2 separate regions of the Homo sapiens genome follow, and region 2 is linked to region 1. The links come from fine-mapping of genetic effects on gene expression. A gene starts in region 1. The other region holds a variant in brackets. All regions are shown on one strand. Distances are between the middles of the regions.

The links. PIP is the estimated chance that this variant, and not a neighbour inherited with it, causes the effect.
Region 2: its variant is the best candidate, but not a certain one, in a credible set for the expression of WDR47 in whole blood (TOPMed, PIP 0.53).

The regions. Positions count from the first base shown.
Region 1 is chr1:109,038,803-109,044,179 of GRCh38, reverse strand. It overlaps WDR47 (WD repeat domain 47), which reads left to right and starts at 2,078. Exons shown (of 15, transcript NM_001142551.2): 1 at 2,078-2,318. RefSeq lists a silencer at 1,881-2,430.
Region 2 is chr1:109,082,655-109,088,031 of GRCh38, reverse strand. It overlaps TMEM167B-DT (TMEM167B divergent transcript), which reads left to right and starts at 3,282. Exons shown (of 2, transcript XR_947688.3): 1 at 3,282-4,817. The variant T/C (reference allele first, on the strand shown) is at 2,751.

The DNA.
Region 1 (5,377 bases):
GCCAGGATGGTCTCGATCTCTTGACCTCTTGACCTCGTGATCTGCCCGCCTCGGCCTCCCAAAGTGCTGAGATTACAGGCATAAGCCACCACGCTTGGCCTGCCATTTACTATTTCTTTGTGTTGGGAACATTCTGAATCTTCTCTTCTAGCTGTTTGGAAATATAGAATAGATTATTGTTAACTATAGTCACCCAATTATGCTATTGAGCACTAGAATTTATTCCTGCTACATAACTGTATTTTTGTACCCATTAACCTCTTTATCCCCCCTTTGCCCTCCACTACACTTTCTAGCCTCTGGTAACCACCATTCTATTCACTACCTCCACGAGATCAATTCTTTTAGTTCCCACATATGTGTGAGAACGTGCAATATTTGTCTTTTTGTGCTTGTCTTGTTTCACTTAACATAATGTCCTCCCGTCCCATCCATGTTGCTGCAAATGACAGGATTTCATTCTTTCTTAATGGGTGAATAAGATTGTATTGTGTGGCCGGGCGCGGTGGCTCACGCCTGTAATCCCAGCACTTTGGGAGGCCGAGGCGGGTGGATCACGAGGTCAGGAGATCAAGACCATCCTGGCTAACACGGTGAAACCCCGTTTCTAATAAAAATACAAAAAAAAAAAAAAAAATTAGCCGGACCTGGTGGCGGGCGCCTGTAGTCCCAGCTACGCGGGAGGCTGAGGCAGGAGAATGGCGTGAACCCGGGAGGCGGAGTTTGCAGTGAGTCGAGATGGCGCCACTGCACTCCAGCCTGGGCGACAGAGCGAGACTCCGTCTCAAAAAAAAAAAAAAAAAAAAAAGATTGCATTGTGTATATGTACCACATTTTCTTTATCCATTTGTCTGTTGATTGACATAGGTTGATTCTATATTTTGGCTATTGTGAATAGTACTGCAATAAGCATGGGAGTGCCAGAAATATTTTTGATGTTTATTCTCTTTACCAGACTGTTACCCCATTTTCCCCTTTTGGGAGGTCCAGCTCACTCTGGACTTTCGCCTCTGTGAGGATGATGTTCTTTTTTCTGTGAGACGGAGTCTCTCGCTCTGTCACCCAGGCCGGAGTGCAGTGGCATGATCTCGGCTCACTGCAACCTCCGTCTCCCAGGTTGAAGCGATTCTCCTGCCTCAGCCTACCAAGTAGCTGTGATTACAGGAGGCTTGCCAGCACACCCGGCTAATTTTTGTATTTTTAGTAGAGACGGGGTTTCACCATGTTGGCCAGGCTGGTCTCAAACTCCTGACCTCAGGTGATCCGCCCGCCTCGGCCTCCTAAAGTGCTGGAATTGCAGGCGTGAGCCACCGCGCCTGGCCGAGAATGATGTTCTTACAGGTTTGTGTAATTGTATTCTTCCTTATGGTTATACTTCCTGGATGCTTAATTAAGCTCGGTTGAACATCACGTATATTTGTGGAATAAGGGGCTTACAACCAACAGGAGTAGACAAAACCTGAACATATTAAATGTTAAGTAACTGAAAAATGCTTTCAAGGCAGATCAGCTTTGCAAAATGAGAAACCAGGAAGGGGACAAACAAACTACTGGAGTTTTCTGGGACGAAGTGGGACCTAGGAAAGCAGCGAAAGAAGGGTAGAAGGCAACATTAATTTCATTAACCTTTATTAATTATCGGGGAGGAGTATGAAGAGTCAATCCTAATGCGCAGTCTTCTCCATTTGCAGGCGACAATCCTGTTCGTGCTATTTTGGGACATGGGGTCACCGGCCAGCTAAGGGTCTACGTCCCTGCCACCAGTCTCACGCTATTGCCGCACCCGTTCTGCTACTCCCCCGGGCCCCTAGCCGGTCCCTCCAAGCCCGACCCCCGCCCGCCCCGCCCAGGCTTTGGTCCGCCCCGCCCAGGCTTTGGTCCGCCCCGCCCCTCCCCGCCCCAGCTTTGGGCCCGCCCCTCCACGCCCCTCCCCGCCCCGCCCCGCCCCGCCGACTCGCCCTTCGGCTCAGGCACCTGCCTGGCCGCCCCGCGCGGCGGGGTCCTGAGGCGCCTCGGGGAAGCGCGGCGATTGGCTGCCGCTCGCGGGTAGAGCTCGGCTCCCCGGCACTTGACAACCGCAGTCTGCAAGAGGCTGAGCTGAGGAGTCGCTGGGCCGGGAGGGGCGGACGTGAGAAGGACGGATTGACGAACTGATGGATTGACGCGCGGGCGGTAGGAGGGAGGACCGACGCCAAACCCAGACCGCCGCCGTCGTGCTCCTGCCGCAGCCCGGAGCCGGCCGCTTCGGGGCCCTGGCCGCCGGCCTCCCAGCCGCGTTCTCCTCCGCCGCTCCTCCGGGCTTGCCCTGGAGCCCTCAGGTGGGTGACTCCGGGAGTCGGAGGCTGGGTCGGTCCGCTGCACACCTCGGGTTGCCATGGTCACCCGTCGCCTCCTGTCACCACCTGACACGGCTCCGACCGGGCGGCCCCGAGGACTGTGTTTGCGGCCCCGGAGAGGGGTCTTTAGTGGGCTTGGGTGCCGACTGGGAGGGGGCTGGGGTCGTGGGTGAGGCCCCAGCATCGCGGGGTGAGGATCTGCGAACTGCTGGGCCCCGGTTCGAGGTCACCGGTCCTGGACCACACCTTTCCCACATTACCAGTTGGATTCTGGGGGCAGAGCGACGCCCCTCGCCCTGGCACTGAGCAGCAAGTGAGCGCGAGGTTCGTGCCCATCTCGCCGCTGCGCCGATTCTTCCTTCCTCGCCCCTTGGTCGAGCCCGTGCGAGAACTGAGGGGCGCGCTCGCGTCCCTTTCTGGGCACGCCTTGGCCCGGAGGAAGAGAGGGAGCGGCGGGGCTGGGAGCCCCGCTGGGGCCGGTTTTGGCCTTTCTCACATCAATGGTCGGGATGGGAGCAGGCCTTTGGGGATCTGGGTGTGGTCGCGGAAAGGGGCAGCGACTCGATTTAGAACTGGGATTGCGCTGGAGGGGCGCCTGCGTAGAAGAACGCAAGGTTGTGGAACTCAAAGGGTTAAACCGCTTCCCTTTATTGGGGAGAAAAATATTGGAACTCTAGCTCTGGGGCGAGGCCATGGGCAAAGGGGGCGGGGGCGGGGGGCGAGGGTAGGCCGGGGCGGCATTTGGGCTTTTGACCAGATGATTTTTCCTTCTCTGTACCCAGACGTGCAGTTAGTAACCGTGCATGGTATCTGAGGGGACCGTTTTTTTTTTTTGGCAACTTGGTTTTCTCTGCATAATGAAAGGAGAAGTCTTTGTTCCACCCAGATTCGTAGGTTGTGATCCTAATACTTATTTCTCTCTTTGTTGGAGACTCTGTAGAATGCCTCAAAAAGTTAATGGCACAGAAATGAACATGTAGGTTTAAAAAATGCTATAAATCTTTTTTTCACAGTAAATTCAAGTAGAATTTTTTTGTCTCCAGTGTTGGCATATGTTGCATTGGCATTTTACTAAGAAGGAGAAACGCCTAAGAGCCCATTTTCCTTTATATGGCATATTGTCGAGGTCTCATTTAGGAAGAAGATGAAATGAATAATTCTACTTTAGGTTTGGGAGATTAGGAGAGATTGCTTCCAATAGGAAAGAAACATTATTACACGGTAATGGAAAAGTCAAGTCACAACAGTATATTGTTAGGTAAAAAAGCCAAAACCCAAACACTTGAATTTGGATGCCATTATGAAGATGTAAATTTTTTTTTTTTTTTGGACGGGATTTTAACCTGTGTTTATCTCCCACTGGTCCACTTCCTGGTTCTTTTCTCCCTCGCCTTAAAAACCAGTACTGTTAAGAATGTGTCATAAGAGAACAGGGGTACTATCCTATGTTACTACTTACATAATGGTGTTCAACCTCTTTTCCTGTTTGTGAAATAGAATATATTAGTTATTTAATGGGCGGCATATGAAATGCTTAATGTATGCTGCAGTTTCAGAAACGCTTTAGTTATGAAAAGATGTGCAGTTTTCCTTAGTAGATCAGTAAGCTGAAAAATCAGATTACCTGTATTTAAGCTTTCTTTTGCTACTGATTGCATTCTTGTAAGAGCTGCTAAGCTTAACATTGACTGATTTCTCATTCTGTAAAATGGTGATGCTTGCTATTGTTTTAGTCTGAGAATGGGCTTTGAGTTGAAAGCACTTTGGAAGGCATCTGTTGATTACCTTTTTTTTTTTTTTTTTTTTTTGAGACGGAGTCTCACTCTGTCATCCAGGCTGGAGTTCAGTGGCATGATCTCGGCTCACTGCAGCCTCTGCCTCCTGGGTTCAAGCGATTCTCCTGCCTCAGCCTCCCAAGTAGCTGGGATTACAGGTGCCTGCCACCACGCCCGGCTACTTTTTGTATTTTTAGTAGAGATGGGGTTTCACCATGTTGGCTAGGCTGGTCTCGAACTCCTAGCCTCAGGTGATCCACCCGCCTTGGGCTCGCAATGTTGGGATTACAAGCTTGAGCCACCGTGCCTGACCCTGTATATTATTTTTGAACAGAAGACTTGAACCCAGGTCTTCAGACTCCAAATCCAATGCTGGCCCACACCTGAGGATACTTCAGTTTTGAGACTATTACACCGAATAGCCAAAGCTTGCATATTTCAACTAATTTTTCTCTATGTTGAGTTTGTTTCTGTTCAAGTGAAAAGATATCCTTAAAAAAGGGTTTATACCGGCTGGGCGTGGTGGCTTGTGCCAGTAATCCCAGCACTTTGGGAGGCCAAAGCGGGCGGATCACGTGAGGTCAGGAGTTTGAGACCAGCCTGGGCAACATGGTGAAACCCTGTCTTTATCAAAAATATAAAAATTAACTGGGCATGGTGGCGTGTGCCTGTAATCCCAGCTATTTGGGAGGCTGAGGTAGGAGAATTGCTTGAACACAGGAGGCAGAGGTTGCAGTGAGCCAAGATCATGCATGCCACTGCACTCCAGCCTGGGCGACAAAGCGAGATTCCACCTCAAAAAGAAAAAAAAAAAGGATTTATACCACACACTCCCTTAAAACCTTTCTTTTGTGTTCTATAGTCTTATTCACTGTAATAGCTCGATCATTGTATCCCAGTTTGTAGCATGTTGTTAATACATAGTAAATGCTCATCACTCATTACCCACCTGAACTTCTCCTGTTTAAATGGCTTCAGATGAATATTATCACAAGTAGGAGTTTCTTCATATAGTATGTTTAACATAATTGATCTCAGTGAACTTTCCAATATTTATTTATTTATTTATTTATTATTATTGTTATTATTTGAGATGGGGTCTCGCTCTGTTGCCTAGGCTGGAGTGCAGTGGCGTGATCTCGGCTCACTGCAACCTCCGCCTCCCAAGTTCAAGTGATTCTCCTGCCTCAGCCTCCCAAGTAGCTGGGATTGCAGGTGCACATACCCCCACACTTGACTAATTTTTGTATTTTTAGTAGAGACAGG
Region 2 (5,377 bases), 44 kb before region 1:
TTTCCACTGTTCCCTATATGGGCTTTAAGCTTTGTCTATAAAGACTATGTTCTTCAGTTACAGTCTTTGCTTTCTCATTTTTGCTCATGCCACTCACTTTTTAGAGATAATTTTTTCTCCCCATTTTTTTTTAACTAGATGAAAACCTCTTCAGTTTTTGTCATACTCTGAAAGACAAGTCTTTCCTCTTCTGTCATTCTCAGAGGTTAGAATAAAAGTTAATCAGCTGGGCGCAGGGGCTCACGCCTGTAATCTCAACACTTTGGGAGGCCGAGGCGGGAGGATCACCTGAGGTCGGGAGTTCGAGACCAGCCTGGCCAGCATGGTGAAACCCCGTGTCTACTAAAAATTCAAAAAAATTAGCCGGGAGTGGTGGCAGGTGCCTGTAATCCCAGCTACTCAGGAAGCTGAGGCGAAAGAATCACTTGAACCTGGGAGACGGATATTGCAGTGAGCCGAGATTGTGCCATTGCACTCCAGCCTGGGCAACAGAGTGAGACTCCACCACAAAAAAAAAAAAAAAAAAAAAAAAAAAAAAAAGTTAAGCCCGGGCGCAATGACTCACGCCTGTAATCCCAGCACTTTGGGAGGCCAAGGTGGGCAGATCACCTGAGGTCAGGAGTTCAAGACCAGCCTGGCCAACATGGTGAAACCTTGTCTAAAAACACAAAACTAAAAACACAAAAATTAGCCGGGCATGGGGGCGTGAGCCTCCAATCCCAGCTACTCAGGTGGCTAAGGCAGGAGGGAGAATCGCTTCAGACTGGGAGGCGAAGGTTGCAGTGAGCCGAGATTGTGCCACTGTACTCCAGCCTGGACAACAGAGTGAGACTCCCTCTCAAAAAAAAAAAAAAAAAGAATAAAATGTAAAGGCTGGGCATGGTGGCTCACACCTGTAATCCCAGCACTTTGGGAGACCGAGACAGGTGGATCACTTGGGGTCAGGAGTTGGAGACCAGCCTGGCAACATCGTGAAACCCTGTCTTTACTAAAAATACAACAATTAGCTGGGTGTGGTGGTGTCTGTCTGTAATCCCAGCTACTCGGGATGCTGAGGCAGGATAATCACTTGAACCGGGGAGGCAGAGGTTGCATTAAGCTGAGATCACGCCACTGCACTCCAGCCTGGGAGACAGAGCAAGACTGTGTCTCATAAACAGAAAAAAAAAATTAAGGATGAAATCAAAGCTGAAAAACCAGGAGGAGTGATGAATTGGCAAATTACAATTTTTTTTTTTTGAGACAAAGTCTCACTCTGTTGCCCAAGCTGGAGTGCAGTGGTGCAATCACTGCTCACTGCAACCTCTGCTTCCTGGGTTCAAGCAATTCTTCTGCCTCTCCTCCGGAGTAGCTGGAACTACAGGCATGCGCCATCGTGTCCGGCTAAGTTTTGTATTTTTAGTAGAGATGGGGTTTCACTACGTTGGCCAGGCTGGTCTTGAACTCCTGACCTCGTGATCCGCCCGCCTCGGCCTTCCAAAGTGCTGGGATTACAGGCGTGAGCCACCACACCCAGTGGCAAATTCCAATTTTTATTTTATTTTATTTTAGCTTTGAGACAGAGTCTCGCTCTGTCGCCCAGGCTGGAGTACAGTGGCGCCATCTCGGCCCACTGCAAGCTCCGCCTCCCAGGTTCCCGCCATTCTCCTGCCTCAGCCTCCGAAGTAGCTGGGACTACAGGCGCCCGCCACCACGCCCGGCTAATTTTTTGTATTTTTAGTAGAGACGGGGTTTCACCGTGTTGACCAGGATGGTCTTGATCTCCTGACCTCATGATCCACCTGCCTCGGGCTCCAAAGTGCTGGGATTACAGGCATGAGCCACCGTGCCCGGCCTCAAATTACTATTTCTAAAGGGCAGTGATAATGCACACAGTATCTTATGATTAAACAGTTTTCTTTTAACTCCACTCAAAATTTACTTTTTCTTCATTTTCCACGTCTGTCTCTATTCTTCCTACTTTTTTTCTCCCACTCTTAAATTTATTTCTTCTTTCTCCCTCCACCATATTTTTTCTTTTTCATATTGTAAAAGATATTTTACATTTTTTTAATTGAATAGAGTGAGTCTCACCAGGCTATTTCAAAATTAGTTGTATCAAGACTTTTATATTCTAAAATCAAAAAGTTGACCAGGTGCGGTGGCTCATGCCTGTAATCCCAGCACTTTGGGAGGCCGAGGCAGGCAGATCACGTCAAGAGATTGAGATCATCCTGGCCAACATGGTGAAACCCCGTCTCTACTAAAAATACAAAAATTAACTGGGCGTGGTGGCACGCACCTGTAGTCCCAGCTACTCGGGAGGCTGAGGCAGGGGAATCGCTTGAACACGGGAGGAGGAGGTTGCAGTGAGTTGAGGTCGCGCCACTGCACTCCAGCCTGGTGACAGAGTGAGACCCCGTCTCAAAAAAAAAAAAAGTTCAGTTTTCTGTGAAATTAAGTTAGTTCCTTTCTAAGGTTGTTGGAGGATTAAGTGAATTACTATTTACAACAATATCTGACATGAGTAAGTATTCCATAAATGATAGCTATTATTGTTGTTCATTTTGAGGGAAGAGAGAGACCCTCTCATATTGTTCTATACTCAGAAAAGGAAAGAGAAGAGAAACTAAAGGCAGGTAGCCCAGTGCCTAGGAACCACACCTGAAACCAGGCCTAGGCCTGCCTGACCTAAGCCTGGTAGTTAAAATTCGACCCGTGACTTAGCAACTGATGTTATCTATAGATTCCATATATTGTATGGAAAGACA[T/C]TGTGAAACCTCCAGTTCTGTTCTGTTTCGCTCTGACCACTGGTGCTTGCAGCCCCTGTCATGTACCCCCTAGCTTGCTCAATCGATCATGACCCTCTCATGTGGATCCCCTTAGAGTTGTGAGCCCTTAAAAGCACAAGTTGAGCACCTGAAGAGCTCGGCTCTTGAGACAGGAGGCTTGCCGATGCTCCCAGCCGAACAAACCCCTTCCTTCTTTAACTCGGTGTCTGAGGAGTTTTGTCTGAGGCTCCTCCTGCTACAATTTGTTTTAAAAGTATCTGTGGTTGGCCTGGTGGCTCACGCCTGTAGCCCCAGCACTTTGGGCACTGAGGTGGGCGGATCGCTTGAGCTCAAGAGTTCAAGACTGGCCTGCACAATATAGTGAAAGTCTGTCTCTACAAAAAATAAAAAAATTACCCAGGCATGGTGATGCATGCCTGTGGTCCCAGCTACACGGGAGGCTGAGGTAGCAGAATCACCTCAGCCCTGGAAGTGGAAGTTGCAGTGAGTCATGATTGTACTGCTGCACTCCAGCCTGGATAACAGAGCGAGACCCTGTCTCAAAAAAAAAAAAAAAGTACTTGTCAGTGTCTACTACTGTGTGCTAAGCACTTTGCTTGATTTTGCAGAAATGGGGCATAAATAAGTCCCTGCCCTCAGAGAAGAAAATATGTTGGGTAAGATAGATGAATAAACACATTTTAATAGAACATGAGCATTGTGTAAAGACAGTATCTTTGATTTTCACAACTGTTTTACAGATTTTTTTTTTAATTAAATCTTGAGACTTAAAGAAGGGACGTGGGTGAGATAACATAGCCTGTTAGGATCCATACCCAGGTCTAAGTTCAAAGCTCCCTTTCCCTTGTTATCACACTGCCTCAAATTACAGTGCTTTCCACTGATACTGATCTTTGATTATTTTGTTACAATCATTAATGTTTCTGTCACCCTGGAAAGTCTCATAGCCTCACTGCCACCCAGTGCAGTCATGTCTCACATCAGGCCAAAGCCTGGGTGACCAGCTCTTGCAGCCCAACTGCAAAGAATAAATAGAGCCTACTGGCCTAGGGACTCTCAATTCAGACAGTTCTTCCTCAATTCATTTCAGTGTTCACTGGAGAATTGGTAGTTGTTGCCAAACGCCTGTCAGTCAAGAACAGTGGCCTGTTTGTTAGGGTTGTTGCAGTTATTGTGGTGAACACTAATCAGTCATGGGGACCATGACTGTGGCATTCTGGTTTAACCAAAGAGTAAGTTGAGCCTCAAAGGCACAGCTTGCAACAATAGCTTCATTTGAATTACAACATATTTGAAAAGGGATGTCAAATAGGCATTAATTTATGCTACAAACATTTGTTCCAGGACTTCTAAATCTAAGGAATGTGCTAGCCTTTGGGAACTCAAAGATGAATGAGAAATAGACTCTGTTCTTAAAAAGTTTAAGATTTAGTAGAAAAAGATAAGCTGTGTTTATAAATAACCAAAAAATACAGCAGAAAGTGAGAAGTGTCCAAGGAAAATGAAAACTAAGTGCCAGGGTGGCGGGGGGGTGCGTAGAAATGGGAAACTGCCTTCAGCTGGAGCGTTCAGGGAAGGCTTTATTGAGGAGCAGACATTTTAGCTGGGCCTGAAAAGCTTATAGCATTTCAATAAGCAGAAATAAAGAGCATTCTAGTGGGGAGGGAATTGAGCCATCAAAGCCCTGGAGAGGGAAAGTGTAAGGTAAGATTGGGGCACAGTAAAGCCTCCCTTCCTCCTTCAATGGCTAACTCACATTCATCCCTCAAGTCCCAACTCAGACCTCACTTGCTCAAGGTAGACTTCTCGGACCTTCAGTCTACTTCCCTGATCATGTTTCCAAAGCATACTATATCTGTTTAACTTATGTCCCCCTGCTATATTGTAATGTTCATTTGTTTTGTCATTTTATCCACAATCCCATAGCTAGTGCTAAACATTTTGCAAGTGCTTCATGAATATTTATTGCATGAATAGTTGAATGTGGCCTTGTGGAACTGGAATGCAGAGCTCATGAAGGAGAACAGCAGAAGATAATGGTGAAAGGTAGGCCCTTAAATAAAAACAACTGCCGGGCACGGTGGCCCATACCTGTACTCCCAGCACTTTGGGAGGCCAAGGCGGGCGGATCACCTGAGGTCGGGAGTTCAAGACCAGTCTGACCAACATGGAGAAACCCCATCTCTACTAAAATACAAAATTAGCCAGGCGTGGTGGCCCATGCCTGTAATCCCAGCTACTCGGGAGGCTGAGGCAGGAGAATCACTTGAACCCGGGAGGCAGAGGTTGCCGTTAACCAAGATTGCACCATTGCACTCCAGCCTGGGCAACAAGAGTGAAACTCCATCTCAAAAAATAAAAAAAAATAAAAACAATGATACTTATGGAATATTCACTACATGCCAGGTACTACCCAAAACACTTTATGGTTATTAACACATCTAATAACCTCATAATAACCTTATATGGTTAGTAACTATTATTATCCCCCTGTCATAGATGAGGAAATGGGTGTACCAGCAGGTCAAGTAAGTTGTCTCAAGGTAACATAGCTGATAAATAGTACACCTAGGATTTCAGACTCAACCTATCTGATCTCAGAGTCT